Linked DNA regions of Homo sapiens: regions 1, 3, 4, 5, 6 and 7 are each linked to region 2. Evidence: fine-mapped expression QTL. A gene starts in region 2. Each other region holds a variant in brackets. All regions are shown on one strand. Distances are from middle to middle.

Region 1 (4,421 bases), 200 kb after region 2:
TTCATACTAACAGTATAATTTCGTAATTCTTTTTCTAGGAGTTGACTGAAATGTACTAATAATCTGTGAGAGGTCTGTGTGCTAAGCCTTTTCTCAGTCTCGTCTCTTGGCCAATTGTGGTCCATTGGATAAAAACAGTATGTCTGGCCTGCTAGTCTGATGGGCTGCCAAGAGGTGGACAGTTGTGATCAGCCACATGGGCTTTGTTCTGACACTTGGGTGACGGTGGAAGCTCCTGATTGGCAGGAACTCTGCAAGTGTATGTGGGAGCAGTGTTTCCCAAATGCTGTTTGCCCAGGGCACATTTGTACTGGTTTGCAAAATGTCCTACTGAAGATCCTTGTTAATAATGTGTAGGTTAAAACAACAACAAAACTAGGGTTCAGTTTTGAGATATTGGATAGATTATATCCACCGTGCATACATATTGTGATGTCTCAGGGTACAGAATGTAAAGAGTAACAGTTCACTCTTACAGATTCAGTTGGGAATAACTGTGTCAGGATGCCTGAGGAATATCACCTTGTTATCTATTTATTACATACTAATTCAAGATTTTTTCTCAGGGTGGCATGCATATTCAGTAGTGTTTGTGTATTGTACTAAACCCTGTTCTTACTGAACTGAGATTTTGCATTTTTTATAAGCAGAGCTTGGAAGCTGAACCCTTAAGTGTCTACCCTGGTCTTGTGGCATTTCATGTTGAGAGCACCAAAATATTCCCTGTGTCATGGGAAGGGTAGATTATGAGAGAAAGAGCAGATAAACTCCTGGGCCCTAGGGTGGTTTTTTTTTTTTGTTTGTTTGTTTTTATATCATGTATCCACAATGATCATTTGGAAGGAATCCAAGTGAATCAAGTGTGAGTCAAACAGCATTGTTTATAGATGCTGTTGTAGTCTGTTCTATGCTGCCGTAGTGGAATACCACAGACTGGGTAATTTACAAAGAAAAGAAACTTATTTACTTATTTATTTATTTTGAGATGGAGTTGCCCAGGCTGGAGTGCAGTGGGGTGATGCAGCTTACTGCAACCTCTGCCTCTGGGGTCCATGTGATTCTCCTGCCTCTGCCTCCCAAGTAGCCGGGACTACAGGCATATTCCACCATGTCCTGCTAATTTTTTTTTTTTTTTTTTGTATTTTTAATAGAGATGGGGTTTCACCATGTTGGTTGTCTAGGCTGATCTTGAGCTCCTGACCTCAAGTGATCCTCCTGCCTTGGCCTCCCAAAGTGCTGGGATTACAGGTGTGAACCACCACACCCAGCCAAAAATGTGTTTCTTATAGTTCTGGAGACTGGGAAGTCCAAGGTCGAGGGCCTGCATCTGGTGAGGGCCTTCTTGCTGCATCATCCCATGGTGGAAGGTGGAAGGGCAAAAGAGGAAGGGGGCCGAAGTCTTCCATTTTATATCCCACTTCCACATTAACAGCATTAATCCATTCATGAGGTGGAGCCCTTATGGCCTCATCACTGTTGCATTGAGGATTAAGTTTCAACATGAACTTTGGGGGACAGAGTGAAACCATAGCAGACAGTTTTCAGAGCTTTCCACCAAGCCTGTTTCTCTCCACAGTGCACTGACTGAGCAGGGCTGCGGCACTGGGAGGTAGCTGGTGTCTGCCATGCACTGGGCTTGGTGCAGGAGTTGAAATGTACTTGTGGGCCAGATGTCACCAAGTGGGCGTCTATATGTGCCTCTGCAATGGTAATTCCACTCTTGCTGCTTTGGTATATATTTGCTATTTCCTAATAATATAGTAATAACAATCTAGAACTGGAAGGAAACTCCTTGTTTTAGAGGGGAGGATCCTTCAGCCCAGAGATCATACAGATATAGTTGGGCAGAGTTGGGACTGGAACTCAAGTCCCTTCTGCTTGTCGTTTTTTTCCAATCTAATATATATGTATATCTACATACACCTATACATAACATATATACACACACACTCTAATATATATATATATATATATAAATTTTTTTTTTTTTTTGAAGAGATGGGGTCTCTGTGTTACCCAGGTTGAAATGCAGTGGCTCTTCACAGATGTGATCATAGTGCACTACAGCCTCAAACTCCTGGGTACAAGCGATCCTCTGGAGTAGCTAGGACCACGGGTGCACACCACCGCACCTGTCTTCCGCCATGTTAAACATAACCCTTCCCCATAGAAAATTCTTAGCACATTTTATAAAGTGGGCTGTGATGCCATGAATCCCAGCCTCAGGAGGGCCATTCTGATTGGTCTCAGGCCTCCATGCTGTAGGTGTTGTGGTGATGCTCTAAGAAGTGCGAGAACTTGTCCTCCTCCAATTGGAGGTTGACTCACGCATGCTTCCTGCAGTCAGGTTGTGTGAGTGTTGCAACCTGGTACCCACCCAGGGCTGGAGAGTCTGCGTGCATATTTGCTTACAAGTAGAGGAGCTGATTTTTGTACAGACAAGTACATTTCACCAGTGCTGCCAGCACGTTCTCTTGGTCTGGAAGGTCAGTAACTGGTA[C/A]CAGAGTTGGTACGGTTTGTTTTTCATTGTTTGCTCTGGCTTCTGTGCCGGATGAGGTCATTCAGTTGCATACAGTTCCTGCTTTCAGAAGTTGCTAGAGTGTTTCTCTTTGAACTTGAACTGTGGCTCTTTTGATATCCAGAAAGAGAGTTCTTTGTGGGGATGGTTAATTCTTGTTTTGGGTGCTTTTCTTCACCGCTCTAAGGAACTACCACAGTCAGAAGGTGCATTCTTACTGCGATCTTTTTATTTGCTACCTTGGGCTTAAGGAGCCTGCCTATATCTACTGAGGTGAGGTTAGGTCAGTCTCTGTAACCGTTCGTCACTTAGGCCTTGATGGGTGACATGGATGGGGATGACTTCCTGGGCTAACTCTTCTCTTGCTAAAGGATGATTTTTCACCACCTTGAATGCCCATGATTAAAACATAAACAAGAAAATAGATATCTGAGGTAAGAATAAACACTGGGACTTTTCTATGGCTGTTGAATAATGTAGTCCTTCTCTAGAAAATGTTGTGTGAACTTAGACTTGTTAACACAATAGCAGACTTGTATGAGACTAAATAAAAATTATATGTTGTTATAGTGAGTGGTATTGAATAGTGTGTCTTTGCCAGGAAGAGAGCTTTGTAATAGGCTGTGTCTTGTGTAGTTGTGAACTATTTTTTTTTCCTAAAATTTCTTCAGATGCCAACCATGTCTGTCAAACTCTGGATGAGTCGCCTTTTACTTAGCTTTTTAAGAACTCTTTTTGGATTCACTAACTTTTATCTGCATTATTTTATCCATGCTCTATTAAGTGTCTAGGATCCTGATAATTATGCATTTTCTCTGAAGATATCTATTTCCAGTAAAATTTGACTATCTAGTGAAGATTGTAGGCCTGATAATATATTTTGAAGTACTTGTTATGATCTGAATGTGTGTGTCACCCCCAAAAATGCATATGTTGAAATTTGAACCCCTTATGTTATGGTTTTAGGAGGAGGGGCCTTGGGGAGTCCTGAGAATGGGATTAGTGCTTCCAGGAGAAGAGACAGGAGAGCTTTTTTCTCACTCTCCCTGCTGTCCACCATGTGAGGACACAGCCAGAAGGTGGCTGTGTGCCAGTCAGGAAGGGAGCCCTCACCAGACACCCGATCTGCTGGCACCTTGATCTTGGACTTCCCAGCCTCTAGAATTGTGAGAAATAGACAAGTGTTGTTTAAGGCCCCCAGCCTATGGCAGCTTGTTATAGCAGCCTGAGCTAAGACATATTTGATTTTAGCAAAATAGCACTTGATTTGAAAGCATTCTGCTCATTGCCATCACCTCCTCCTTCACAGTTGTGGATTAAAAAAAAAAAAAAATGAACACATGACCACAACAAAACACTGATATGTGCTGAGTTTAATTTACTTCTTTTTTTTTTGAGATGGAGTCTCACTCTGTCATCCAGGCTGGAGTGCAGTGGTGCAGTCTTAGCCCACTGCAACCTCTGCCTCCCAGGTTCAAGCGATTCTTCTGCCTCAGCCTCCCAAGTAGCTGGGATTACAGGAACTCGCCACCATGCCCAGCTGATTTTTGTATTTTTAGTAGAGATGAGGTTTCACCATGTTGGCCAGGCTGGTCTTGAACTCCTGACCACAAGCGATACGCCCACCTCAGCCTCCCAAAGTGCTGGGATTATAGGCGTCAGCCACTGTGCCTGGCCTTTAATTTGCTTCTTATTCCTTGGTTAGGATTAGGGAGAGAATGTCTTGGGTGGCCACTGTGGAAACAGCATTTCCAGTACCTGTCGGTACTTGTCTAAGGAGATTTAATGCTCTCCTTCCTCTTGGGCAGTCATTCTCACAGTGGCTATGGCTTGTCTTGCTACATACACTGTGTAACCACCCTGCCCTGCTGGGCCTTGGTGTACACAGATATTGGGTAAAAAT
Region 2 (4,421 bases):
ACCTTGGGCAAGTTACTTAAGTTTCTGTGTCTTGGTTTTCTAATGAGTAAAAATGGGAATAATAATATCACCTTTCTTCTAGGGTTGTGAGGATTAAATGAGTTAATTTGCTGAGATTCATGTCTGATACCAAACACTCAATAACCATGGCCTGTTACTGAGTGTTATTCTAGGTCAGACTTAGCAACACACTAATCAGAAAGTCTACTGTTCTTAGCGGGCCAGTGCTGGAACTCCGATGAGTTCATGCGTGCCTCTGAGCACACCCACTGAGCGAGGAGAGGTGGTCCTCAGAGCCCGGATGCAAGCCCAGGGCCTCCGCAGACCTAGAAAGTGGCTCTGAGCTTTCTTCCTCAGCGGTCTCCTGAATGTGGCCGCTCGCAAGCTGCACTGTGAACTGCTGACTCTCTGTTCCAAAAGGGGCTTGACACATAATTGAATGAATATATGAATGAGTGAATGAAACCAGGTGTAAGAGTGCATTTTTCTTTTCTTAAATCCCTTCCTGTTACCTCCAAGCCTTCAAAAATGTCTTATGCAGCATCACAGCCCCGATTTACTATACGTGTGCTTGGAGGGGCACAGCATGGCACGACCCGACCCGAGTGGACTGTAGCAACCAAGTCAAATGGGAGACAAAGTGCAGTTCCGAGGGGTCTCCAGGAATATCTGGGAGGGGGGACCCTGGTAGAAACCTGAACCCCCTGATTTCTTATGGGTGGGGAATTTGGACAGCTTGCACTTGGGACACAATGAAAAAAGAATGAGCTCACAACCCTGGGAAGCCAGAAACAGCTTGGATAGCACGGGGCCTGCCACACGGTAACCTCTAAATAAATGGAAGCTTTCTATATTCTAACTTTCAGTAGAGACTAAAATAAAATGTGCATTTGATGCCATATCCACTCATTCTAAAGCCATATCTGCCTTTTTGTATTATGAATATGACTGTCCATTTAGAACAATATTTCCCGTATGGCCATTACATCTATAAAATGATTGTTAGATAGAATGAGACTCAGAGGACAGATAGGAGAACAGGGATCTCGGGCACCCAACAAGCCCTTCTTAGTGGCATAAACTTGCCTTAGTCACATGAAATTTCAAAGAATTGGTTTCTGCCTCTGTAAAACGGGAATCAGTGCCATAATATAATAACTACCACCTGTCTGGGCCAAAGAGCACATCTTGACATTAAATTAAAAGAGAGAGCAAACAAATTAATTAAGAGTGGGTAACATGCCCAGAAATCTTGACCCTAAAATCACTATTAACGGTAAAAGCATTACAGTATTACATTTCTATAACATTCCTAGCAGACAGTTGGCTAAGGAAAAATCTTGATTCTGAATTGTCTTAGAATATGTTTATAATTTATTATTTTTCACCATTCACATATTAATGTGTTGAGAAACAGAAGATCTATGTTCAAAAAGGAGTTACTTTCTGAAAGTAGGTGATATATACCATATAGGTAGAATACTTCACATGTACATAATACCTCCACACATAATAACATAATACATAAGGATAATTGTTAATGTAGGGCTCTCTTTTTTCTTTTTGGTATTGTTGAAAACTAATCAAGAACTTAGCCTAGCTAGTAAAAAAAAAAAAATCAAATTACCAAAGACCTATTTATAGTTATCAGAAAAGGCAATGTGGATCCTGAAACCAGGAAACTTGTTTTGAGGGTGGGGGGAAGATTCCGGGAAGATTCCGGAAAGATCCCGAAAAGTCCAGAAAGATTCAGAAAACACATCACACCGCATCTCTCCAGGCGAAAGATTGAGTCTACCTCCTATTTTAATAATGAAACAGCTGCTAGGGTCGTGGCCCTTCTAGGGGTCTTCATTTGTGATGGACAACTGGGTCGTTTTTGTTTTGTTTGGGGGAATAAATATTTGAAGGGGGGTAACCAAAGAAGGTTTTGCTGCTGTTATGATGTTATTGATACGCAGGCTGACGCTATTATGGCAGATGCTATCAGGCTACATTATCTTTATGCCTCCTAGGTAACCTGAAGCAATTGTCTATTGACTTGGCACTACCCTACCCTGAAGCGTCTGCCCTGCCTAGGAACTGTAACCGGAGCCACTCACATGCCTCCCCAACAGCTTTCTTTAGCCACTGACAGCATCACAGAAGGAAGAGCGCGAAATTGCCCAGGATGGACACTTTCAAAGGGGCCCCAGCGGCTAAGTGACTCTCAGGGAAGGTGGCCTTGCCATCCCAACTTCTATTTAGGGGCAACCACTAGCAAGTTCTTCTCTTCGGGCAATTGGAAAGAGTTCCTATAAGCAAAGTGGAGGTGATGTGGACCCCTGGAAAATTTCCTTGCCCCGTTTGAACTTTGCAATGATTCACTGCAAGTCATGTCCACGTGGAAAGCAAGACTCACCAAAAGACTGAAGTCTCCCTCTAGAAGCATGCATCCATTTCCGTGCTCAGCTCTGCTCGCCTGTTTTGGGAATACGAGGGAGAGTGCTTCCTTCAATCAGTCCGGCGTGGCTGATACTCATTCCACCGTCCGTGTGCAGCCTGTGGCCAAAGCAGGCAGACAGCCAAGACACCCAAGCGCAGAAGGAGCTCCAGAGAAAAGGCAAGATTCGAGCACCCATGCAGAGAGAAATGGCAGTGCGAATCGGAATTCAAGTCACCGCACTGCGGCCCAGCCCGCGGAGACGCCTGAAGATGTGCCCGGGTCCCTGGATGATGGGGCGGACTGTGAAGCAGTGGTGTTTCACGCTTCCATCCCCAGACCATCAATTATTGACACGCCCAAGGTGAGTGAGTGTTCGCTCTGCGATTATAGACGGGATGGAGCTGGAGGAGCGTTGGGATCATGTGGCGAATGTTTCAGCAAACAAACTCATTTAACCTTACTGAATAAGGCATTGCGGGCGTTCTCACTAGTGCGAAGAAGTGTGTTAAAGCCGTGTAGATTCTCAGAGTGTTCTCAAAAGATGTGGATGAGGCAATGATAATAAGCACTGGAGCCATGGCAATGACCGAAGGTAACCTTGAATTAACGGGCTAGGGTGCCTTAGAGCCAAAAATGGCTCACTCAATAACAGATTAGGAGTAAGATAGTTTACAAAAACATTTTTTTCCTTTTTCTATTTCCCCCTCCACCCCCACCGGTCTGTCAATTTATTTATATGAAAATCCACAATCTAAAAAGTTTGGCTAGGGAATTCACAAAACTGCCTCTACTTAAAATGAATCACATGATATCAAAGCAGTCTGGAAAAATTTGGAAATGATCATCAGTGTATGCCTAGTGGTACGGAAGGGAACTGACCTATAAAACTATTCATAATATGGATGTTTTTGTGATAATCTTCTGAGAGTTGAAGGCAGGAGGAGGAAGTTATTTAAAAAAAATGGTGCCACTGCTCTTAAGAGTTATTTACTTATTTTCTTTCCATTTTTGGCATCAGTGAATTTTAATTGTTGAGTATTCTGATTAGATGGAGCTGTACAATTATTTCAAAGTTCCCGGTAATCCCAGTTTGCAGATGCAGTGTAGAGGAAAGGTTTTCTAAAAGGTACACTCCAAAGATATCTCTTGACCATTTTTGGTCATTTCCTAGCCAAGTAGCTTAGGACCAGACTTAAAAAACTGAGAAGTCTTTGGGGATCCATCACTAAAGTATTCTGATTTTTTAAATCATTTTTCCACATCCGTTTAACAAATTATTTTTTGGTCTGGCTTGCTTCACAGAATCTAAGAAGCCTCCTTAGCAAGAACACAGCCAACCAGCAAAGATAGGGTTAAAACATCATTTAAAAAATAGTTTCATTTGACACCCTGCAGGTTTATATGAAATGACTGAAGCTTGGGTCTGTCGTCTGCATTCTGAAATTGGACAGAGAGTTTTACCATATCCTCTGTCACAGCAAAAACTGCTATGTTTTTTTCTAGCACCACTAAACCAAAGCCCATAACCAACCAGCAAAAACCAAAATTTTCAGTGTATAGCCACATCCAGATTAAGATATTTTTGGTAGTATTATAGGTAGCTGATTAGAATTCATGGCCAAGTTGATATTTGTTGGATATTTATGGTACCAATGATGTACAGTTTTAATGAACCGGAAGACTTTCTGTTGAGCAATGCAGACCCACCTTATATTACTGAAGACAGCCGCAAGAACAAAGGGTTACTTTGATTTTATCTTTCTGTTTTAGTTGCACATGGGACTCAGGGACTCAAGGCAAGCATGTGAATTCAAATAGAACCAATAACACAAAATGGGGCCACATCCATGTTTAGTGTCCACTTGGCAGGAGCAAAGCCATGGGTGGTCCACAGCGTAGGATGGATTACAGTTGGGAAGCCCGGAGCAGAGAGGACATTGTAACAATCCAGACAGGAACAACAGGGAGATAAAGTGGGAGGGGCTCCATGAGGCAG
Region 3 (4,421 bases), 160 kb after region 2:
TATTCCCAGTCTTTTTTACTTGTTCTTTCTCTGTGTGTCTTTGTCTCTCAGCCTGTCACTTATCATTTTGGACAAAGGTCTGTTATTTTCTTTGGTCTGTCAAAGACAAGGACAGTTCTATCATATCTTTGTATTTCTTTATTTTGTCCTTGTAATTATTTGTGTATGAAATGATACAAATGATAGCAAATGGCTGAAGCAATTGTTGCAGAGAGAAATGAGCTGAGAAAAGCAGGTGCCTGTCAAAGTACAGTTTCCTGCAATGTGTGTTAGCTGTGGACTTAGAAAAAGGAGGCCACCAGAACAAGCTGGAATCTTGGACAGGGTAAGTAAGGAAGGACAGGGCAGGTTGTTCTGAGTGCTGATGGCAACTGAGAGACGAACAAGGAGAATTGCAAAACCTTTCCAGAAACTGCCCTCAGCTGCCCAAGGACTCTGTCCTTCCATCATGCATTCATTCTCTCTTTTTCCTTATAAAGTTCCAACTTTTATTAATATTATCCAGCTAACACTAACATTAGTTAGGATTTTAGTTCATGTTAAATTTGGTGGAACAAATAGAAGAATGTTATTACTTGAACAGCAGTTTTAAAAGTCCAGTAATCATTAGCAGTTCAAATGTGTGGGTCACACACTTCTCTAAGCAGAGTTAATAAGTAAACCTTCTCTGGCACGATTTAACATTAGCTGCAGTTTGAACTTTACTTCTAAGATTGGAGTGGATCACACAGCTCTCTCTTCCAGACAAGCCTGGGGAGCACAACAACTAAAGCTGGAACTTTTTATATAAATAAGGACTTATGTATATAACATGTATATATATTTATACTCATACATACACACACATACACATATACACACATGTATAAGGACATATAAATGTTTTATATGTATGAGGATATAAATATATAAATATATGTATTTTGTGGCTGAGAGTGACTCCCAGCTAATAACTAGCAAGGAAAAATTTATGCATATATATTTTTATACATATTTATAAATGAATGAGCTTAGAAGAGGACCTTGAGCTCCAGACGAGATGAACTATGAGCCCTGCCAAGATCTTGATTTTGATTTTGGGAGGCCTTCAGCAGAGAATGCAGCCGTGCCACTTCTGGACTACAGAAATAACTATGAATTCATTTACTGTTAAGTCCAGAGGAAACTGAAGCTTTGGATAAGTTTCTTATCCGAGGTCACCAGGCAGATCTCTTTAGTCCTAGCCTAGCCTTCCTTCCATTCTTCCATGAACTTATTTTATTGCAATTAATAGAAGTTAGGTGAATATATATATATATATATATATATATATATATATATATATATATAAAACTGGCATTCAACTAGTTATTAATAATATAAGCATTCCAAAGGATACTTCCCGCTAATGGAAATGTCTGTATCTAGAGCGAATATCAGAAAGAAGAAAAAAAAGTTGGAGCAAACTGTAGAATGTTCACAGAAATTTGGCCATTTGTATTGTATGTCAGTTATTTGAATTAGGAAATTTACAGAAATTATCTTCATATTGCTTAATTGCAGAGATGGTTTGTTTACTCATTAGTGTCGACCATTAAGTTACCTTAATATTTTTGACAGGATGAGCGCTTAAGGATTTTGTTCCCCTCTCTTTGCTATTTAGAGATTTTAGTTTTAATACACAGGAAGACTCTCAGGAAATCCTTTTTTCTGGTTTTGGATTCATGTAAAGAAAAAAACGTAAAATGCAGATCTTTGCATCATTCAGTAGTCGTTTATGTGAGTAACAGCTGTTTCTCTCGATTCTTCGCGATGTGCAGTTACAAGTTAGAACCACCATTTCATAGAGTCCCTTTGATTTTAAAATTGTGAACAATGAAAAGCAAGTGTTCTTTAAAAACGAAATTAAGTGTTTTAGGCAGTACATATATTAAATGTTTGGAAAATAAAACTCTCCTGAATTTTTAAACTCTCTAGAATTGGCAAAGTACTCAGTTACATTATGAAATACAGCTCTGTTTTGGAGCTTGCAAAATGCTTTTGTAGTGGATAACTACTGCAGGGGACAATACTCATCTTTACTGTTGGTGCTGTTAGCATATTTAATGAAGTAATTCCATTCCTGTGATCACAAATGCTCATGCACAGAGGCTCTTTTAATGAAACAGCTTATCATCTGGTTTCTAGCATGTTCTTTCAGATTTGGGCATATCATTTTGATCCTTCCTAAGTACTATTAATTTAAAAAGGTATGCATGTGCTATATTTGCTTGGCAAACCACACAACTTTTCACAAAGATTTTCCACAAATGAGTTCT[C/G]TAAGTCTCTTTATTGAAAGGCATTATCTTCCTGAGTTATGGAATATTACATTAACGTCATACAACAATTGTGCAAAACAGTTAAGCAAAATAAAGGGACTTCTGTTATATTTACATGATTATGCTATTTAAATGATAAAATTAGGATGCCATATTCTTTTTTATTTTTTTTTTGAAGTGGAGTCTTGCTCTGTCACCCAGGCTGGAGTGCAGTGGTGTGATCTTGGCTCACTGCAAGCTCTGCCTCCCGGGTTGATGCCATTCTCCTGCCTCAGCCTCCCGAGTAGCTGGGACTACAAGCGCCCATCACCATGCCTGGCTAATTTTTTGTATTTTTAGTAGAGATGGGGTTTCACCGTGTTAGCCAGGATGATCTCAATCTCCTGACCTCGTGATCCACCCGCCTCGGCCTCCGGAAGTGCTGGAATTACAGGCGTGAGCCACCGTGCCCGGCCTAGATGCCATATTCTTAACTTCGTTTTCCTTTCCCTATTGTTTTCAGTATTCAGGTCATCAGGGGTCAATGAAGACTTGGTAACCACTGAACGGACCATGTGGGAATTCGGTTATTACTCAATAAGAATTCCTTCTTAGGCCTGGTTCCTGGTTTACTGCTGAGCTCTGCATGTGATACCTCTCCAAGGTTTCCACCTTCTGCCTGCCCTCACATTCTATGTTTATATTAAAGAGCATCTGTCTGTTTGCCTGTCCTTCCATCTGTCATAGAATTCTAAGATAGCCTCCACAATTCCTGGCCTCTGGTATACACACAACTTCTCCAGTTATTCAGTCATACCCTAATCTAGCTATTGCTGTGATGGGATTTTGCAGATGTAAGGAAGGTCTCAAGTCAGTTACCTGTCAAGATAGGAAGATGATCTGGGTGTGCCTGACCTAATCACATGAGCACTTTAAGTCTGAGTCTAGAGCCCTAGATGGCCAAGTCAGAGATTGGAAGCATAGAAGGATTTGCTGAGACACTGCTGACTGGAAGATGGGGAGGGCCACATGATGAGGTTTCTGGGCAGCCTTTAGCCTTTAGCAGCTGAGAGTAGCTCTCAGCTGACAGCCAGCAAAGAAACTGGGTCCTCAGTCCTATAACCACAAAGAACTGAATTCTGCCAGCAATCTGAATGACCTTAGAAGAGGACCTTGAGCTCCAGACAAGATGAACTATGAGCCCTGCCAAGATCTTGATTTTGGCTTTGGGAGGCCTTCAGCATAGACCCCAGTCATGCCATTTCTGGACTAAAAAAAGGACGAGTCAATATGTGGGTGTTATAAGCCACTAAGTCTATGGTAAGATGTTATGCAGCAATAGGTATCTAAAACACTGATTTAGAACCCAATGCACCTTAGTTGCATTATAGTCCCAAAGCGTTTGTTGTTTTTTCTTTCCCCCATCTTTTTCTTATTTAAACCAAAAACAAATAAGCAGAAATTAACTATTTTCTTTGACCTATCAATTGAGGCCATGAGGCCAATACCAATGTATTGTATCTGTCTTTGTGGGTTTTATGTTGAATACCAAAGTGCTTTTGTCTTATCATCAGAAAGATTTCCCTTGAGACTATTGTTAGCACCTGTTACTTTGCCCTCCATTCTGTAGTTCCTCATGTCTGATTCAGAGGAAGATTATTTGCAAGGATGGTCACAAGAATTCCTCCTCTCCTAGTACAGCACTCAAGCCCTGTTGCAATATGACTACTGCTTCTACCATCAAGGGGGGTCTCTTTCTCCAAATCTTGGATTTGGGCTGACCTTGTGACATTTTTAATGGTAGAATGTACAGACTTCTATCATTCTTCTAGACCCATAACGCTAGAGCTCCAGGGGCCTTACCACTTCCTCTTTCGCCCTCCTGGACGGGGCTGTTGTGTGAGGAAGTCCTATCTAGCCTGCTGAGAGGCCATACAAGTGGATCTGAGATGCCTGAGCTGACAGCTGCCATCAACTTCTGGACTTTGAGACCACCCAGGGCAAGCCAGTCCCTGGCCAACCTCCCAGTTGACTGCAAACACATGACAGAGCCAAGCTAATGCCACATGGGGCAGAAATAAGATATCGCAGCTGAGCCTTGTCCAAATTGCCAACCCACAGTATTGTGAGCAAAGCATGTGTTTT
Region 4 (4,421 bases), 100 kb after region 2:
GTTTTAAAAACACAGCCCCTGTATATTCTGGATGTTAATCTCTTGTCAGATCAATAGTTTGCAAATATTTTCTCCCAAATTGCAGGTTGTCACTTCATTCTGTTGATTGTTTCCTTTGCTGTGCAGGAGCTTTGGAGTCTGATATAATCTCATTTGTCTATTTTTGCTTTTGTTGACTGTTTTTGAGGTACTAGCCATAAAACCTTTGCCTAGACCAATGTGCTGAAGTGTTTTCCCTATGTTTTCTTCTCCTAGTTTCATAGCTTCGGGTCTTACGTTTAAGTCTTTGATGCATTTTGAGTTGATTTTTGGATCTGGTGAGAGATAGGGGTCTACCTTCATTCTTCTGCATGTGGATGCCCTCTTTTCTAGAGATACTTGGAACGCAAATAACTCAACAGCAAACAAACAAAACAAAAAGCAAAAGCAAAAAACAAATAATCTGATTAAAAAATAGGCAAAAGATTGGAATAGGCATTTCTCAAAAGAAGACATACAAATAGCCAAGTATATTAAAAAAATGCTCCACATCACTAATCATCAGGAAAATGCAAATCAAAACCAAAATGAGATATCATCTCACCCCAGTTCAAATGGCGATTATCAAGAAGACAAAAAAATAACAAACGCCGAAAAGGATACGGAGAAAGGGGAACTCCTACAGTACAGCCGTTATGAAAAACAGTATGAAGTTTTCTCCAAAAACTAAAAATAGAACGACCATATGATCCAGCAATCCCACTGCTGGGTATGCATCCAAAGGGAAGGAGATCAGCATGTCAAAGAGATATCTACACTCTCGTGTTTATTGCAGCACTATTCACAATAGCAAAGATACGGAATCAACCTGAGTGTCTATCAACAGATGAAGGGATAAAGAAAATGTGGCACTTATACAATAGAATACTATTCAGACATTTAAAAAAAGAATAAAATCCTTCATTCGCAGCAACATAGATGAGCCTGGAGGACATTATATTAAGTGAAATAAGCCAGACACAGAAAGACAGATACCACATGTTCTGACTCATATGTGAGAGCTGAAAAAGTTGGTATCATGGAAGTGGAGAGGAGAACAGTGGTTACCAGAGGCTGGGAAGGTTAGGGGGAAGGAAAAATAGGGAGAGGTTGGTTAATGAGTACAAAATTACAGCCAGATAGAAGGAATAGTTTCTAGTGTTCTATAGCACTGCAGGGTGACTCTAGTTAACAATAATTTATTGTATATTTTCAAATAGCTAGAAGAACAGATATTGAATGTTCCTAACACAAAGAAATGATGGATGTTTGAGGTGACGGACAGGCTAATTACCCTGCTTTGCTCATTTCACATGTATACATGTATTGAAATATCACATGTACACATAAATATCTATGATTATTATGTGTCCATTTAAAAGAATGGAACCAAGCCTCTTTAATTATTGGTCAGGAATTCTATTTCTGTCTCCAACAAACTACCTTTTTGCTTCTAAACTTGCTGCCCTAGAGTGAAATGTTAACTCCCAATGTTGCCAACTATGAGGCCAAAGGAAAATGACTTGATGTACATTGGTGAATGTATTTGGTTCGTGTTTTTAAGTTTTTTTATTCCTTCCTTCTTTCTTTATTTCTACTAATGTTCAATCAGGTGAACCTTAGGAAAAGAAGCTAATTTGTACCAAAATCTTACCTTGAACTCCCTAAGTATAAACTTAGTGTGGTTTCACATGCCCTTTCAATGAGGCATCTTGGGATTAGTCCTCAAGGAAAATACAGTCATGAGCCATATAATAATGTTTCAGTCAGCAACAGACCCCATATAGAATGGAGGTCCCATCAGGTTATAAACTATCTTTTTACTGTACCTTTTCTATGTTTAGAAACACAAACAAACACATATTCATGTTGTAAAGTGACAACACACGACTGTAAATGAAAAGTCCATTTGTTTGACAAATTTTAATAGTACATTCTTGGTACATCATCGTGGTCACATTTGATTTAATAAGCATTGTAAAACTCATGATGGGGCCGGGCACAGTGGCTCACGCCTGTAATCCCAGCAGTTTGGGAGGCCGAGGCGGGCAGATCAACTGAGGTTAGGAGTTTGAGACCAGCTTGACCAACATGGTGAAATCCCGTCTCCACTAAAATACAAAAATTAGCTGGGCATGGTGGCAGGTGCCTGTAATCCCAGCTGCTCGGGAGGCTGAGGCAGGAGAATCGCTTGAACCTGGAAGGTGGAGGCTGCAGTGAGCCGAGATCACGCCACTGCTGGGCAACAGAGCAAGACTTTGCCTCAAAAAAAAAAA[T/AT]AAATAAATAAAAAATAAAAAGAAAGAAAAAAACTCATGATGGCAGGGGAGGTACAGAACCAATGTACAGAACCAATGCATGCCTGACTCCTGATTTCCCAGAGCTGGAGTTCTTACACTGGTGTATCAGTTAGGACTCATTCTTTTAGAAGTGACAGAAAACCTGATAGGAATCAGTTTGATTTAAAAAGAAATAGAGGGTTTTTTTTTTGTTTTTTTGTTTTTTTTTTTTAAATAAAAGGGAGTGTATTAGCTGCCTTATGCGGAAAAGTCCAGGGTTAATCTTGCTTCAGGCGTGGCTGAATTTGGGGCTTAGTTGATATCAACAGAAGAAAGCATTGGAGCATCTCTTGGCTCTGCCTTCCTTTGTGTGGGCTTCAGTTTCAGCCGCACGTGATAACAAGGTGGTGCCTACAGTAGCAGCTGCAACCCCTGTCTCTGGTTTCAGGGCCAGTGGATAATAAGAACAGGAGTCATTTTCCCAGAAGTCCAGAGAAAAATCTCATTAGGTCTCACTAACCCTGAGTGTGTCACATTCAGACAGCGAGATGGGAGGGGGTCCCCAGAAAACCTCCAACCAGCCTGCCCACTTGGGGTGGAGCCTCGGGAAGCTCGTGCCATTTGCATCAGGGAGGAGCCTGGCCCCTCCTCTTCCTGTGTGTAACCTGGGATTCCAACAGGAAGGGTTGTAGCAGGGACTCTGACCTAGTAAGAGTCCCTGTTTCCCCCTTTTCTTCCTTTTCACCCAATAAAACCCTGTTTTACTCACCATTCAAATTGTTGGCGAGCCTTTTCAAATTGTCTGCAAGCCTTAATTTTCGTGGCCATGGGACAAAGAACTCTGTCTTTAGCTGAACTAAGGAACAGTCCTGGAACAACATAGCCGCTCTACCAATCAGAGGGAAATGCAGCAGACTGATGGGCGTGGGCCTGGGTCATATGTTGCACCCCTGGAGTGGGATGGTGGGGAAGGAGTCGGTTTCACGGAGCACAGAAAACCACAGTTCTTTAAGAGTGGGATGAGATGGGATGAGATGGCTTTAAAGAGGAAATCAGGACACACTTACTAGATAGTGAGTCAGTGAGTACTAGGCAGCAAAATCAACAGATGTCTACTACAGTTGGACTGTTGTCATTTTATTCTAGCTTTGCTGGGAAAAAGCCACTACGAACGCATTCAGCAAATTGCAGACTTGCGCTGAAGAGAAGAGACACAAGAATTGAAGGAGCTCAGCTTCTTTTCTCTAAATAGAACATAGTTTATACTAGTGAGGACAGATGCTTGTTTATTCTGTGCTGAAAGCTCTCCAACCAAGAGCATTTCCAACATCCTTCCCTCTGCAGATTGTTGCGGGACTTTGCAACTCTTACTAGTCAAAGGGAAACCTTAGGGAGGGGCTATTTAAGATGGAGTAATAAATATGTTTGGAGAAGAGCTAAAGGGCTATGTTATTTCACAGTTCTGGAATTCAGAGCAATAAAAAAGTAAACAGTCTTACTGGCTCAAAGGGGAGAGTCTTTTCATCTTGAAAATGACTTTATTTGGATTATTTTGGCCTCTCAAGAGACTTCCCCTGTGGCTGTATTATAAAATAATTCCTCATGTTTTCATTATATACTGTTCTGTCAGGCCTTGTGAAACAAGAAATGACTTACTGCATTTATTTGCTGTGTGATGGGGCTTTTCTGTTATTTACACATTCTTTGGTATACTATTAATTCATACCCACTTCAAATATGTAATTTTGGAGGCAATTTTCATTAAAATTTCTTACAACACATACATTTGAGATAATTGAACTGAGGCCTTATTTACCCAAATTGCTTATGCCAATACTATTCTATGGGTTTTAAAAGTAGGACACATTTTTAGAAATGGTCTCTGATGATGAATATTTGGAGATGATTTTTGATCTCTGGAAAAACATTTGTTCCCAACACAGGTGAAATCAATTCACTTCTAAGTTGATAATTATGGCAATTTAATGAAACCAGTTTTTATGAATTAAGAAAGACATTTCTTTTTAAAAACATGTTTATTGATACATAATATTTACATATTCATGGGGTACTTGTGATTTTTTTTACATGCATAGAATGTGTGATGATCAAGTCAAGGCATTTAGG
Region 5 (4,421 bases), 160 kb after region 2:
TTTATTGTTAGTGTTCATTGACTTGGCAGACCCTCTCTTAACTGCAAGGTACTTCTGTACATTTTTTTTTACTCTGAAGAATTTTTCCTTCCCTTTCTTTTTGCTCTCCAAGCGTTATACTCCGCTTTCAGCAGCTAACAAGCGAGCTGTGGAATGGGGCTGGTGCCACCCCACATCGGCTGGGAAGGCCTCAAAAAAAGCCAAATCCTGTTTCAAATCTTGTTTATGCTCCTTCCTCTCTTCCCCAGCTTCAAATCAACAGATGCTTCTAGTCTGGGAACCTAGGGGAGTTCTCAGGGCCATGTATCCTGTTTCTTTTAATAGAATTGCAGCCTGACTAAGGTAAAAATTAGTTTCCTTTTTATATTCTTTAATTCCTTGTCTTCACTCTTTAATCAAATGTCTTGTTTTAATTTTTCCTTGCCCTGTGGCGTTGGCTTATGTCTAGCCACAAAATGTCCCATTTCATATACGTTTTAAAAAGTGGACCACAGGAGGAAATATTTCATCCAAAGGGAATATTATAGTTTGAACACTTAAGATCTAGAATCAAAGAGTCTGCAGTAGGAGTCAGTCACAGAACACAAATAACAGGGCCACAGAATTTTTCTGTTAAACAGAAAAAGTAAGAAAGGAGTCTACATAATATAAACAGCAGTTTAATGTTGCTTTCAAAACATCGAAATGTGAAACCAAATCTCACTCTCCTCACTGGCTGTGGACATGCCTCTTCCCTGAAATTCCCTGAAAAGAATGCCAAATTTAAAAAAACAGAGAACCTAAGAAATAAAATGGTCTTTATTGCAAAAGTCATGATTATCTACATTAAAAATCCCAAAGAACTATTTAAAAAATGACTAAGAAATATAATATGTGAGTTTGTCAAGTTCATAAGATACAAGGTCAATCTGTGGGAATCAACTGTATTTTTAAATACAAGCAATAAATAATTGGAAATTGAAATTCTAAAAATGTATAATTTACAATAACATCAAAACCAAGAAATACTTAGGGATTACTTTAACAAAATGTATGTAAGGTTTGTATGCTGGAAAGTACAAAACATTGATAAGGAAATCGAACAAGACCTAAATAAATGGAGAGATATACTATGTTCATGTGTCAGAAGACTATATATTAAGACATCAGTTAAATGCGGCATGTTCTCACTCATAAGTGGGAGTTGAACAATAAGAACACATGGACACAGGGAGGGGAACATCACACACCAGGGCCTGTGGGGGGATGGCGGGCTGGGAGAGGGATAGCATTAGGAGAAATACCTAATGTAGTTGACGGGTTGATGGGTGCAGCAAACCAATATGGCACGTGTATACCTATGTAAGAAACCTGCATGTTCTGCACATGTATCCCAGAACTTAAATTATAATAATAAAAAAAATACAGTAAGCATTTTGAAAAAAATCAGCGTTATTCTAAAATGTATATGAAAGCAAAGGGCCTAGTACAACCAAAATAATTTTGGAGAACAACAAAGTTAGATGACTCACAAAACCTGAATTTTAGAGTTACTGTAAAGTAATACAAATAAGAAAGGGTGGTGTTGATGAAAGGTTAGATATACAGAGACATGGAACAGGATAGAAAATCCAGAAATAGGCCAAGCGCGGTGGCTCATGCCTGTAATCCCAGCACTTTGGGAGGCCAAGGTGGGCGGATCACGAGGTCGAGACATCGAGACCATCCTGGCCAACATGGTGAAACCCCGTCTCTACTAAAAATACAAAAATTAGCTGGGCATGGTGGCACGCGCCTGTAGTCCCAGCTACCCAGGAGGCTGAGGCAGGAGAATGGCTTGAACCTGGGAGCGGAGGTTTCAGTGAGCCGAGATTGTGCCACTGCACTCCAGCCTGGCGACAGAGCGAGACTCCATCTCAAAAAAAAAAAAAAAAAAAAAGAAAGAAAGAAAGTCCAGACGTAGATAGACACTTACACGGTCAACTGATTTGCAACAAAGCTACCAAGTTCATCAATGTATAAGACATAGTCCTTTCAAAAAGCAAACAATGGAACATCTGTATACTAATGAAAAAAAAAGAAATTCAACCTTTACACCATTGCCTAGCACCATATGAAAATATTAATTTGAAATACGTCATAGACCTAAATGTAAGAGCAAAAACTATAAAACTTCTAAAAGAAAACATAAGAGAATGTAATTGTGTGCTTAGCTTGGGCAAAGGTTTTTTTTTTTTTTTTTTTTTTTAGCTAGGACACAAACACAAATCGTAAAAGAAGGCATGGATAAATAAGCCTTCAAATTTAAAGTTTTTTCTTCTTCAAAATACATTGTTAAGGAAATAAAAAGAGAAGTCATAGATGGGGAGGAAATATTTAGAAAACACATGCCTGTAAAAGAACTCTTACAACTTATTAAGAAAATACACACAACCAATAAAAACTGGATAAAAGACTGGAACAGAAGCTTCGCTAAGGAAGATATATGGATGACAAATAGCACATGAAAAGGTGCTCAACATAATAAGCCATTAGAAAAATAAAAATTAAAACCACTCTTCACCTATTAGAATGGCTAAAATGAAAAACACTGCTAGTGTCGACTGCTGATGGATCATAGAACAACCAGGACTCTCATGCATTGCTGGTGGGAACGTCAATATGGGCACTTTGGGAAAAAGTGCCCATTAAGTGAAAT[G/A]TACACCGACTGACCGTACTGCCTTATTTTCCTAGGGTTGCTGTAACAAAGTATCGCAAAGTGAGTGGCTTAAAACAACAGCAATTTATTTCTCGCACTTCTGGTGGCTACAAGTGTTGGATGAAGGGATCTACAGGCGGTGCTCCCTCTAAATCCCTCTGAAGCTCCCTCTGAAGGTTATAGGAGAGTTTCCTTCCTCATGTCTTCTAACCTCTGGTACTTGCTGGCAATCCTTGGCACCCTTTAGCTTATTGATACATCACTCCAATCTCTGCCCCTGTTGTCACAAGACCATCTTCTTCCTGCGTGTCTGTTTCTGTGTCTCGTCTCCTCTTATGAGGATACTTACCAGTCAGATTAAGGGCCACCGTACTCCAATATGACCTCATCTTAATTACATCATCTGCAGTGACTATTTTTTTTTTAAGCAGTCTCACTCTGTCGCCCAGGCTGGTACCCAATGGCATCATCTCGGCTCACTGCAACCTCTGTCTCCCGGGTTCAAGCGACTCTCCTGCCTCAACTTCCTGTGTAGCTGGGATAACAGGTTCACACCACCATGCCTGGCTAATGTTTGTATTTTTAGTAGACACGGGATTTCGCTATGTTGGCCAGGCTGGTCTTGAACTGCTGACCTCAAGTGATCCACCTGCCTTGGCCTCCCAAAGTGCTGGGATTACAGGCATGAGCCACCAAGCCCGGCCCGTAATGACTTATTTCCAAATAAGGTCACATTCGAAGACTGGAGATTAGGCCTCAACATCTTTTTGGGGGGCGTGGGGGCAAGGGACAGAATCCAACCCATAATACCATACAACCCGACAGTCCCACTCCTAGGTTTTTACCCAAGAGAAATGAAAACATATGACATATGTTCTCACACAGACCTGTGTGAGATGTTTATAACGGCTTTATTCATAGTCACCCCAAACTGCAAACAAGCCAAGTTCATCAACTGTAAATGGATAAACTGAGATAAACAATACAATGGAATACCACTTGGAAATAAAAAGAACGAATTACTGATACACCCAAGAACATAGAGAAATCTCAAAAGCGTCTTGTGAAGTGAAAGCAGCCCTGAAGGAGACTGAACTGTATAATACCCTTCATGTTGCATTCTGGAAAAGGGAGAACTATGGAGCAAAAATTGCAGAGACTGTGGGTGGGGAGGAGGGAACTCACCACAAGGGGACATGAGTCAACTTTTTTAGGTGGTGAAATATTCCCTATGATAATTGTGGAGGTGGTTACACAACTGTATTACATGAGTCAAAATTAATAGATCTGTAGACTAAAAAGAGTAAATCTTACTGTATATAAATTTCACTTCAAGAAGCTGGGTTTGGTGCTTCACGCCTGTAAACCCCACCTCCCAGCTTCAAGCAATTCGCCTGTCTCAGCCTCCCAAGTAGCTGGGAAAACAGGCATGCGCCACCATGGTAATTAGGCACCAAACTCTGGGTCATGGGCCTGTCTCAGGCCTTTTTTTTTTTTTTTTTTTGGCGTCTACCTGAAACTGTCTCTAGTTGTTTATTCTTTACTCCTGACCGGACAGCACCTTCCTAGATGCAGCAGTGTCCTTTCTTCCCTACCAGGACAGCTTGCTCTTGCTTTACATGTGTTGAAGCTCTGAGCACACAGTTTTACTTTTGTCTCTGCTCAAACACAGATAGCCACTTACGTGTTTCATCACTTCTAAGCAGCCATCAATTGTGAAATTAGGATATCTTAAGCTTCAGAT
Region 6 (4,421 bases), 120 kb after region 2:
AGTAGAAATTACATAGTACCACTTTTATAGAGAGAGGGAGATTAACAGTCTTTCAGAGGTGGCACATCTTGTCTTCATTCATTCATTCCCTTGTGGGCAGGGAGATGGATGAATGGGCCAACCATGCTTTCTTGAGATAATTCTTTTTGAAAATAAGTTGCATTCTTTCTAGTGGCCATTTTTTTTTAAGTGAAATGTGTTTGAAAAACGTTGGCTTCAATTTGCCATTCCTCTTAAACCATGCATTGCTTTAGAAACAGGCCAGGTTTTTTTGAATGCTGAAACAAGTTTCCAATAAGTGTACCATTCCAGAAGACCTTGTGGAATCCTCATTCTCTTTTAGGTTGCACTCAACCTGTGCTGCCAGGACCTCAAAGATTACACCACTTGGTCATACGAGGGGAGAATCCTGTAAGTTGGAGGCTGTTGGTTATGGTCAAAGGGTTTCATCAGAACACCCTCTTTTTGCTAAAGGTCACCTAGAACTGAGTGGAGCCCAGCACATTTTCGGAGTTGGCTGTCTGTGTCATCTGCATTTAGTCAAGTTTCATTTCCTGTGGTTTGTAGATTTCTTAAGTGTGAAGTAACGAACCCCAAACAGTTAAAATTCTTTACCTAAAAATGGATGAAATGAGAAAAAAAAATAAGTATTTTTGTAACTTCTGTGGGGAAGTGAGACTGGGGTTCCACTGAGCAGTTCCTTGTTGCTGCGCACATAAGGCCAGCCCCTCTGCGGGAAGGTCCATGACACTTGGAGTTCAGATCTCCTTGCTGGGCATCTTAGGAGGTGACAAAACGAGACCCATTTTCTGACAATTCAGACAAAGTGTCTGCTTTTACTTTCATGTCGTGGGAGAACAGTCAACAGTGCAGTTTCCACCAGAACCCACTATATCTCAGTCACACACCCCTCTGATTTTGTGCAAGAGTTGTTTATCTTCCATACAGATTTTTCTGAGTCTTTGGCCACAGATGAACAGAAAACAGTTGAGGTAGGAAGGTGAGAAAAAAAGAAGGGAAACTTATCCTGAGTTTGCTTTCTTTCCATTCCCTTAACCTTAGGGCAGACAGTTTTTTGTTTGCTTGTTTTGTTTTGTTTTGTTTTGTTTTGAGACGGAGTTTTGCTCTTTCACCTAGGCTGGAGTGAAGTGGGGCAATCTCAGCTCACTGCAACCTCTGCCCCCTCCCCACCAGCAATTCTCCTGCCTCAGCCTCCGGAGGAGCTGAGACTACAGGTGCGCGCCACCATGCCCAGCTAATTTTTGTATTTTCAGTAGAGACGGGGTTTTGCCATGTTGGTGAGGCTGGTCTCAAACTCCTGACCTTAGGTGATCCACCCACCTCAGCCTCCCAAAGTGCTAGGATTACAGGTGTGAGCCACCGTGCCCAGCCAGGGCAGACAGTTTGAGGGTTCATGGGAGGCCTTTAATTACGGAAAATGCTACTGGGGATAGTAGAGGACTTTTAGTGAAGACCTGGTCCCCAGACTCTTTATGGGACTTTTTGGTCTGCACAGCTCCTTCTGTTGGGTCTTTGTTTTCAGTGAGAGCTTCCTTGACCACTTTCTGCAAAACTGCAACCTTTCCTTCAACTCTTACTTCCTTGTTTGTTTTGGTTTTTGAAACCACTTGTCACTATCCACACATTATATAATTCACTTGCTTTTTGTCTGTCGTCCCCTTCTAGAAGGTAAGCATCATGAAGGCAGGGATGTTTGACCATTTTTTGTCCTGCTGCAAACATAATGAATGCCTAGGATGGAGCCTGACATATAGGAGGCACTCAGTGAATATTTATTAAATGGGGAATGAACCCTTGCTCTTTTTAAACTTGCTGAAGCAAGTAGATGAATCAATCACTTCTTGGCCTTTTGGCTAAATCAAGTGAAGCAGATGAGTCAGAAACTGGAATTGCGTCTTTTTCTCTTTGTTTTCTGCCCCCAGCTCCTCGCACAATTCTTGGACTATGTAGGAACTGAAAAGTAATGGTTGTTTGACTAAAGTATGCATGCATGAATGAATGATTGAGTCTGGTTTACAACGTGACTTTTGATGTAAAAACTGTTGTTTATTTGGGTACTTAACACATATAAAGCAAACCATGCTAATCCACGGAGAGTCAAAGATGAGTCAGACATGGGTCAGACATGGGTCTTGCCTTCAAGATGCTAAATAGACTTCCTTTGTCCTGAGTTTACTTTCTTTCTGTTCCCTTAACCGTAGGACAGTCTGTGGGGTCACAGGAAGTCTTTTCTTAGGGGAAATGCTCCTG[G/C]GGGTTGTAGATGATGACTTTCAGTGAAGACCTGACCTCTAAACTCTTTTATGGGACTCAACTATCATAGCTTGTATTTTAGTCTAAAGAATCTCAACATTTTGTCTCTATTTCAAATAATAGTAATTGGATTTTCACTGTCGTATAAATTCTTCCCAAGAAATGAAGGTTAGCCAGGTGCTAATTACGCCTGTAATCCCAGCACTTTGGGGGGCCGAAGTGGGTGGATTGCTTGAGCCCAGGAGTTGGAGACCAGCTTGAGCAACATGACAAAACCCCAACCTACAAAAAAAGAGAAAACATTAGCCGGGTGTGGTGGTGTGTGACTGCAGTCCCAGCTACTTGGGAGGCTGAGGTGGGAGGATCTCTTGAGTCTGGGCTGCCAAGGCTGCAGTGAGCTGGGATCGCGCCACTGCACTCCAGACTGGGCGACAGAGTGAGACCAGCCTCAAAAAAAAGGAAAAAAAAAAGTGAAGGTGGCAACATGCTTGTTGCTGGAGGTTTATTAGAAGAACATAGACATGAAAGTCATACAATCCCTGTTCCAAGAACTTAAAACACCAGTGAACAAGAGGCCACGGGCTGTAATATATATTAACAAAGAGAAAATGTTTCTAGAACTCATTTATAAATCTTGCATTATTAAGTGTAAGTAGGAGAAAGTTGGTTGGTTTTCCATCTAGGTTCTAGATTTATTTCCACATGCTAAGTCTGTGGAAATTGCCCTGGAATCCAAGGAGATGTTTCTCTGGTGACCAGGGGTGGGGGTGAAGATTTGGGGCTGGAGGTGTCTGTCTTTGGGAGGGTAAGGCCAGCAATGGTATGCTCCTAGTCTGAAGTGAACGAGACTTCCTGGCCTGCCTATTTCAAGATGTGCCAATCTGTGTCCAGTCCTCTGCCATTTTGCCTTGAGAAGGTGTCAGGCTAATGAGATAGGATTTCCAAGTACAAAGCACCCTCCTAGGCCGAATCTGTTAAGTGGTGTTACCACTCAGGGTTTGGAAACCCTGTCATTCATCCTCCTCAGAGTCATTGGAGAGCAGTCTGTGCTTTCCCCTCTCTACATGGGCAGAGAGCAAATTGCTTCCAGATTTTTCTGTTTAGGAAATTTAACAGATCATTTATTGTTCATAAATGGGAAAATACAAAAATACCTAAAATGAGGGTTTGATTTAGTCCTCTGTATTCAAGGTGAGCCTGATGTGGTGTTGATGGACTGGGCACATGTGCCTTAAAGAGGAGCTGAGCTGCACCTGTGCAGCAAGCTGTTTAGCCTTGACATTGTGCTCACATGCCCATGGGACACCTCAGTAGTCTAGTTAGTATGACCTATTCTTCTCCATCCAATCCTATGTCCTCTTAACACAGTGGGAATGGAGGCATGGAACTTTCCAGAAGTTTGCCCAGGTTGTAAGGTGAACCAGTTACCGGTTACCAGGAATGAAATTTTCAGTGTGCACAAATTGAAGCAGAATTGCCTAATTTTTTGTGTGTGCTGCAAGCTGCGTTTCTACACTCTTTCACTTTCTTTTACTATTTTCTTATTTGTTTGTTTAAAATTTAATGTTGGCCCTTTGTAAAAATTTCTTAGAGAAGGAGGAATTCTGAAGGTGACATTAACATCCAAAATCAGAAGTAAAGTGATGATCTTTAACTGTTTGCATCCTGGAGGAATCTCTCTACCCACTTCTTACTTCTCACTTCCTTCCCCCACATTGGTATAAAAAGAAGAACTTGTATTGCATGCCAGGAACCCGAATGTCCAGTCACTTGTCTCCTTGGAGTGCACCTCTCCTTCCATTCTGATGACATGGAAGGTGGAAATTGTCATCTAGAAATTTCAACTGGTGGTCACAAAGCCTCCCAAGAGAGAAAATCCAAAGTTTTCAAATCTCAAAGATGGTAATTGTTGGCGTTGCTTTTGCAATTTACCCATGTTTTCCTGAAAACCTTCAAATGAAGTGAAATTTTGGCCCTGGAAGTTCCCTGTGAAGTCAGCCTCTTTATCGCCCCCATGCCCCACACTGGTTCGGAGTGGTGTAGGAGCCACCTTACCTTGCTCTACTCCTCAGTGTTTCCTGGTAAATCAGTTGCTGCTCCAGAATTTGTATCTAGGAGGAGCACAGGGGCCAGAACAGGTTGAAAAGACA
Region 7 (4,421 bases), 120 kb after region 2:
GTTACTGGTGTATTTCAACTCAACTTGAACATGCTTATTTGAGCGTAAGAATGGACTTAAATCATAAAATCATTTATTTTTGAATTACCCTATGTGGGCCAAAATATTTGGATTAAATGCTGTTTGTTTCTGTGCAAAATGGAATACATAATCAGATATTTTGTTTTGAGCCTTAAACAACAGCTAAGAGTCTTAAACGAAACTAGCTAAGATCACCTCTGATTTCTTATCCTTCACCACAGAGAGATGATGAGAGCAAGAGATAATAAAACGCAACAGCAATATGTTACTAAAGACCTTTCTCCAATGAATTATGGCTTTCATTAATGAATTAATGCATAGCTGTAATTAATAATTAGGGTTAATATGCGGTCTATATTCCACACAGATATTCAGAAAATAGGAAGTAATTCTGAAGACCCGAAAGGTTATTTCAACTGCTTATGACTGATGTTACAACCAGAGCAAACTCAGCTGTAGATGTGTTTTTGTGGCTTGCAAATTTTTTGAAAATTGGTTGCCAATGTTTAAAAACTGGAAAATTTCATGTAAAAATCTAGGTTCCAATTTCTCTTGAGAAATTGTAAGAACTAGCCAAACCAGGCCTGCATTCCTAAGCAGTGGAAAAAAAAAAAAAATCAACTGGAGTTGCCTTTTTAGCTGGTACCTCCCTATCCTGCCTGGCCCCTGCAGGCATTTGGGGTTTAAATGCCAGGCTTATGACGTTAGAAGAAATATGAGATGAAAGGAAGAAACACAAACAAATAATAAACCTTACAGTTTTCAGGCAAGAAGAAACTCTTCCTTGCATATTTACAGTTGTGTGGACAGTGTTGTGTTTTTGCTTGTTTGTCAGAAATCTCTTCCTTGGCTGTGGTCTGAGGAGCAGGTAAGATCGTGTGGGGTCATTGCTATGGAAACAGGAGAAAACACTAGCCTCAAGCTTGTGGGCGTTACCTCACCCAGTGATCTTTACACAATTCCCTGAAGTTTCCCGCGGTTACATTTTACTGTGTATAAGAGGCTAATACTATACTTTTTAGGGGCATTTTTGTGATTTCAGTAATGAATAATTACAAAATATTTTGCAACTGTGCATTGCCACCAAGGAAATGGAACCACATGGATGACTGTGGCTGCACAGCTAGAAATAACAGTTCTAGCTTGCACCATGATGGCACAGGTGCTTAGAGGTCTCAGGAAAAGTTCCCGAACCATGGGCTTTTCTCCCAGAGCTCTTCCTTGAAAGGGGAACTGAGAGGCCACTGTGTGCTCCTGAGAGGCTGGAGTGAAGAACAGCTTCTGTTCTTGCTCAGCAAGGCTGGTGATGTGAAATTGCCTTTGAGAGCATTTGCCCGCCTGGCTGTGTGCCTGGCACCTTTTAGATAGATTTCGATCAGCATAACTCCAGTGTGCATGGTAATCATGGAAATTTTCAGCTTTCTTCTCCAAGGAGAAACTGATAAAAAGAACAAACTGCCCTTGGCTTTTTCTGAGCCATGGAAACAGAACAGTTCTAAGACTCAAAAAGTCAGGGCACATTTTGCAAAGGCCTGATTCTAGTATTTGGCCTTAATTGTAAATACCGTGGCAGTGGACCATTAGGTCACAAGTGTAATTTGTCCATGTGTTCATTCAACATTTATGGAGCCTTCTCTCTACTCAGGGATTGCGAGTTTTGCCTTCTTGGTTTTGTGTTCAGCCAAGGCCAGTTATGACGCTCAACCCTGATGGCCATGTTTCTAGAAGTCCATGCATCACATTTTTTTCTGTGCCTGAATTCGTTTCATGACTGCTATGCTGCAAGTGGGCTCACAGTATGTGGTTTCTCCCAACAACCTGAAAGGGCTTAAAGAAAATGGATAATTGCATTAACTCCTTCGGATGACTATAACTTTCTCAGTTTCCTACCAATTCTAGTCCACTGGTGGTGTCCTGAGTTAATCTGGTCCAGCTGCGGTATTTGATTTTAGCACATTCAGGAGCGTATTACCTTAAATAGTCTTTTCTCACAACTGAACACAAAACGTCTGGTATCCACGCTACCCTTGATACTATAGCAATAACA[A/C]TGCTAACATTTTCTAAGTAGTGTTCTTAGAACACTTAGAACAATGCATAACGTGCCATGCTAAGTGCTTTACATGGATTTTTTACTTAATTCTCTTAACAGCCCTAGAAAGTAGTACTATATTTTCTCCCCTTTGCAGGTAAGAAAACTCAAGCTTTAAAAGTTAATTTAACCAAGGTTGCATGGCAAGAAAGAGCTGGAGCCAGGACTCAGTCCAGGCCTGGTTGAGTCCAAACCCCTATATTTTCGTTATTTCCGCAGCTCTGCAAAAACCAATACGTATCTGGACAGAGTTGAGAATTTCTCTCTATAGTGAGAGGGTTGATTTTGTATCTTTCTGACTTAGTGAGTTTATCAGCAGGGATCTGGGATCTGGTGCTCTTTAGAAAGCCTAACCCTCCTGGTTTCTGTCAGGAAGGAGCTCTGCAGGAGGGTGAGCTCATGGAATTTTCCATGTGCATAGAAAGTCATGCTTTGATTGAGATGAAGTATAGAAATAAGAGTCACTGCTTTTTTTTTTTAACATTTGAAGTTGAATATCTATGTTTTAGATCTGACTTCACTCCATCAAAACATTATGTTTAACTCTGGTAGAATCAAAGACAACAAACATCCCTCGAACTTGGCCCTTCTCTCCGACTGTACAACTTCTGTTTATGGTGCTACCCTCCATCCTGGCTTCAAGCTTCAAGGTCATGTTGGATTCCTTCTTTCCACTTCACCTCTGTATGAATCTTATTGAGTTCCTTTGCTGTATTTCTCACACATATTCCTAATTTTCCAGTCTTGGTATCACACTCTGGTTTGGGTTATTATTCTCTTACACCCAAACCATTTTCATCATCTCCTAACTTGTCTTTCTGTGTCCAGGCTTTACCTGTTCTTATAAACCCTACACACCGTCAGATTATCTATTCGCCTATTAAAATCCCACCTAGCCTTGAGGGTGCAAGTCAAATTCTACAGTCTCAAGGAAGTCATTAAGTACCTACAAAAAAGTAATCTCCCCAGTCCCCTTCTTATGGCTCATAATTTACGGTTATGTGTGGATATATCTGTTTTGTTTTGTTTTTTGAGACGGGGTTTCACTCTTGTTGCACAGGCTGGAGTGCAATGGCGCGATCCCAGCTCACTGCAACCTCTGCTTCCCAGGTTCAAGCAATTTTGCCTCAGCCTCCTAAGTAGCTGGGATTACAGGCATGCACCACCACGCCTGGCTCATTTTGTATTTTTAGTAGTGACGGGGTCTCTCCATGTTGGTCAGGCTGGCCTCGAACTCCCGACCTCAGGTGATCTGCCCGCCTCAGCCTCCCAAAGTGCTGGGATTATAGGCGTGAGCCACTGCGCCCAGCCATGTGTGGATATATCTTATCCACACATGGCAGAGATGGCCAGATGTTTATCCAATATTCATATTCTTTAGCCAGAGAATCCTAATATTGTCAAGTGCAGTTATAGCCCAAGCTCTAAAACAATATTTCCCAGGCTCCTTATAGATAGGGCTGGCCAATGATATACTAGCTAAAGTTGTCAAGTGGTGTCTTAATTTGGTTCCCCCAGAAGTAGACCCTGAGACAAGGATTCTAGTACAGCTTGCTTAATTTGGAGGTTGTCTCAGGAAGCGTCAGTAGTAGAAAGAGGCCAATAAAGCATTGCTTATTAGGAAGAGTATCATTTTTGGTGACTGGAGTTTCATCCTACTGGGGAACTCTGGGATGTAGCTCAGACGCTAGAAGTTTCCTTCACTATCATTAACACTTAACGCTGAACTTATCCTAAAATTGGAGTAGAGTGCATTGTAAGCATAAGAGCAAGGGAATATGGTTGAGTTTTTAAAAAATATTATTTTTACTTTTACTATGAGCATATACGACTTCTTGAAATTTAGTGATATAACAAAATAGAAAGAAAGCTAATGATTTAATGCTGTGTAGAAAGAAGTAGGATATAAAAATGTTTACCATAACTGTAAGTACAGAACACAACAACTGATGCATAGTTTTATGGAATGGAGGAACTAAACCAGAATGCTCAATACGTAGCACAATACGTAAGCAATAAGTATTTGTTACTCTTAAATAAGTATCGAGAGGCCGGGCGCGGTGGCTCATGCCTGTAATCCCAGCACTTTGGGAGGCCAGGGTGGGAGGATTACCTCAGGTCGGGAGTTCGAGACCAGCCTGGCCAACATGGTGAAACCCCATCTCTACTTAAAATACAAAAATGAGCCAGGCATGGTGGTGGGTACCTGTAATCCCAGCTACTAGGGAAGCTGAGGTGGGAGAATTGCTTGAAGCTGGGAGGCAGATCATCATGCCACTGCACTCCTGCACTCCAGCCTGGGTGACAGAGC

The links. PIP is the estimated chance that this variant, and not a neighbour inherited with it, causes the effect.
Region 1: its variant is fine-mapped to the expression of FAM107B in spinal cord (GTEx, PIP above 0.99). The same link has a PIP of 0.9 or more in caudate, hippocampus and putamen.
Region 3: its variant is fine-mapped to the expression of FAM107B in whole blood (TOPMed, PIP above 0.99).
Region 4: its variant is fine-mapped to the expression of FAM107B in whole blood (INTERVAL, PIP above 0.99).
Region 5: its variant is fine-mapped to the expression of FAM107B in lung (TOPMed, PIP 0.94).
Region 6: its variant is fine-mapped to the expression of FAM107B in monocytes (TOPMed, PIP above 0.99). The same link has a PIP of 0.9 or more in whole blood.
Region 7: its variant is fine-mapped to the expression of FAM107B in whole blood (TOPMed, PIP above 0.99).

The regions. Positions count from the first base shown.
Region 1 is chr10:14,570,294-14,574,714 of GRCh38, reverse strand. All of the region lies in intron 2 of FAM107B (family with sequence similarity 107 member B), which reads left to right. Among named protein-coding and RNA genes, the nearest start is that of MIR1265, 140 kb to the right of the region's middle. RefSeq lists a silencer at 2,229-2,278. The variant C/A (reference allele first, on the strand shown) is at 2,501.
Region 2 is chr10:14,772,618-14,777,038 of GRCh38, reverse strand. It overlaps FAM107B (family with sequence similarity 107 member B), which reads left to right and starts at 2,142. Exons shown (of 5, transcript NM_031453.4): 1 at 2,142-2,786. The coding sequence starts at 2,376.
Region 3 is chr10:14,608,393-14,612,813 of GRCh38, reverse strand. The region is part of intron 2 of FAM107B (family with sequence similarity 107 member B); the gene reads left to right. Among named protein-coding and RNA genes, the nearest start is that of FAM107B, 160 kb to the left of the region's middle. RefSeq lists an enhancer at 4,033-4,082. The variant C/G (reference allele first, on the strand shown) is at 2,298.
Region 4 is chr10:14,669,978-14,674,398 of GRCh38, reverse strand. The region is part of intron 1 of FAM107B (family with sequence similarity 107 member B); the gene reads left to right. Among named protein-coding and RNA genes, the nearest start is that of FAM107B, 100 kb to the left of the region's middle. The variant T/AT (reference allele first, on the strand shown) is at 2,295.
Region 5 is chr10:14,617,515-14,621,935 of GRCh38, reverse strand. The region is part of intron 2 of FAM107B (family with sequence similarity 107 member B); the gene reads left to right. Among named protein-coding and RNA genes, the nearest start is that of FAM107B, 160 kb to the left of the region's middle. The variant G/A (reference allele first, on the strand shown) is at 2,678.
Region 6 is chr10:14,656,130-14,660,550 of GRCh38, reverse strand. The region is part of intron 2 of FAM107B (family with sequence similarity 107 member B); the gene reads left to right. LOC105376429 (a long non-coding RNA gene) reads right to left here. Exons shown (of 5, transcript XR_930691.4): 4 at 4,327-4,382; 5 at 1-615. Among named protein-coding and RNA genes, the nearest start is that of FAM107B, 120 kb to the left of the region's middle. RefSeq lists an enhancer at 415-504. The variant G/C (reference allele first, on the strand shown) is at 2,272.
Region 7 is chr10:14,650,324-14,654,744 of GRCh38, reverse strand. The region is part of intron 2 of FAM107B (family with sequence similarity 107 member B); the gene reads left to right. LOC105376429 (a long non-coding RNA gene) reads right to left here and starts at 1,998. Exons shown (of 5, transcript XR_930691.4): 1 at 1,912-1,998; 2 at 779-911. The variant A/C (reference allele first, on the strand shown) is at 2,069.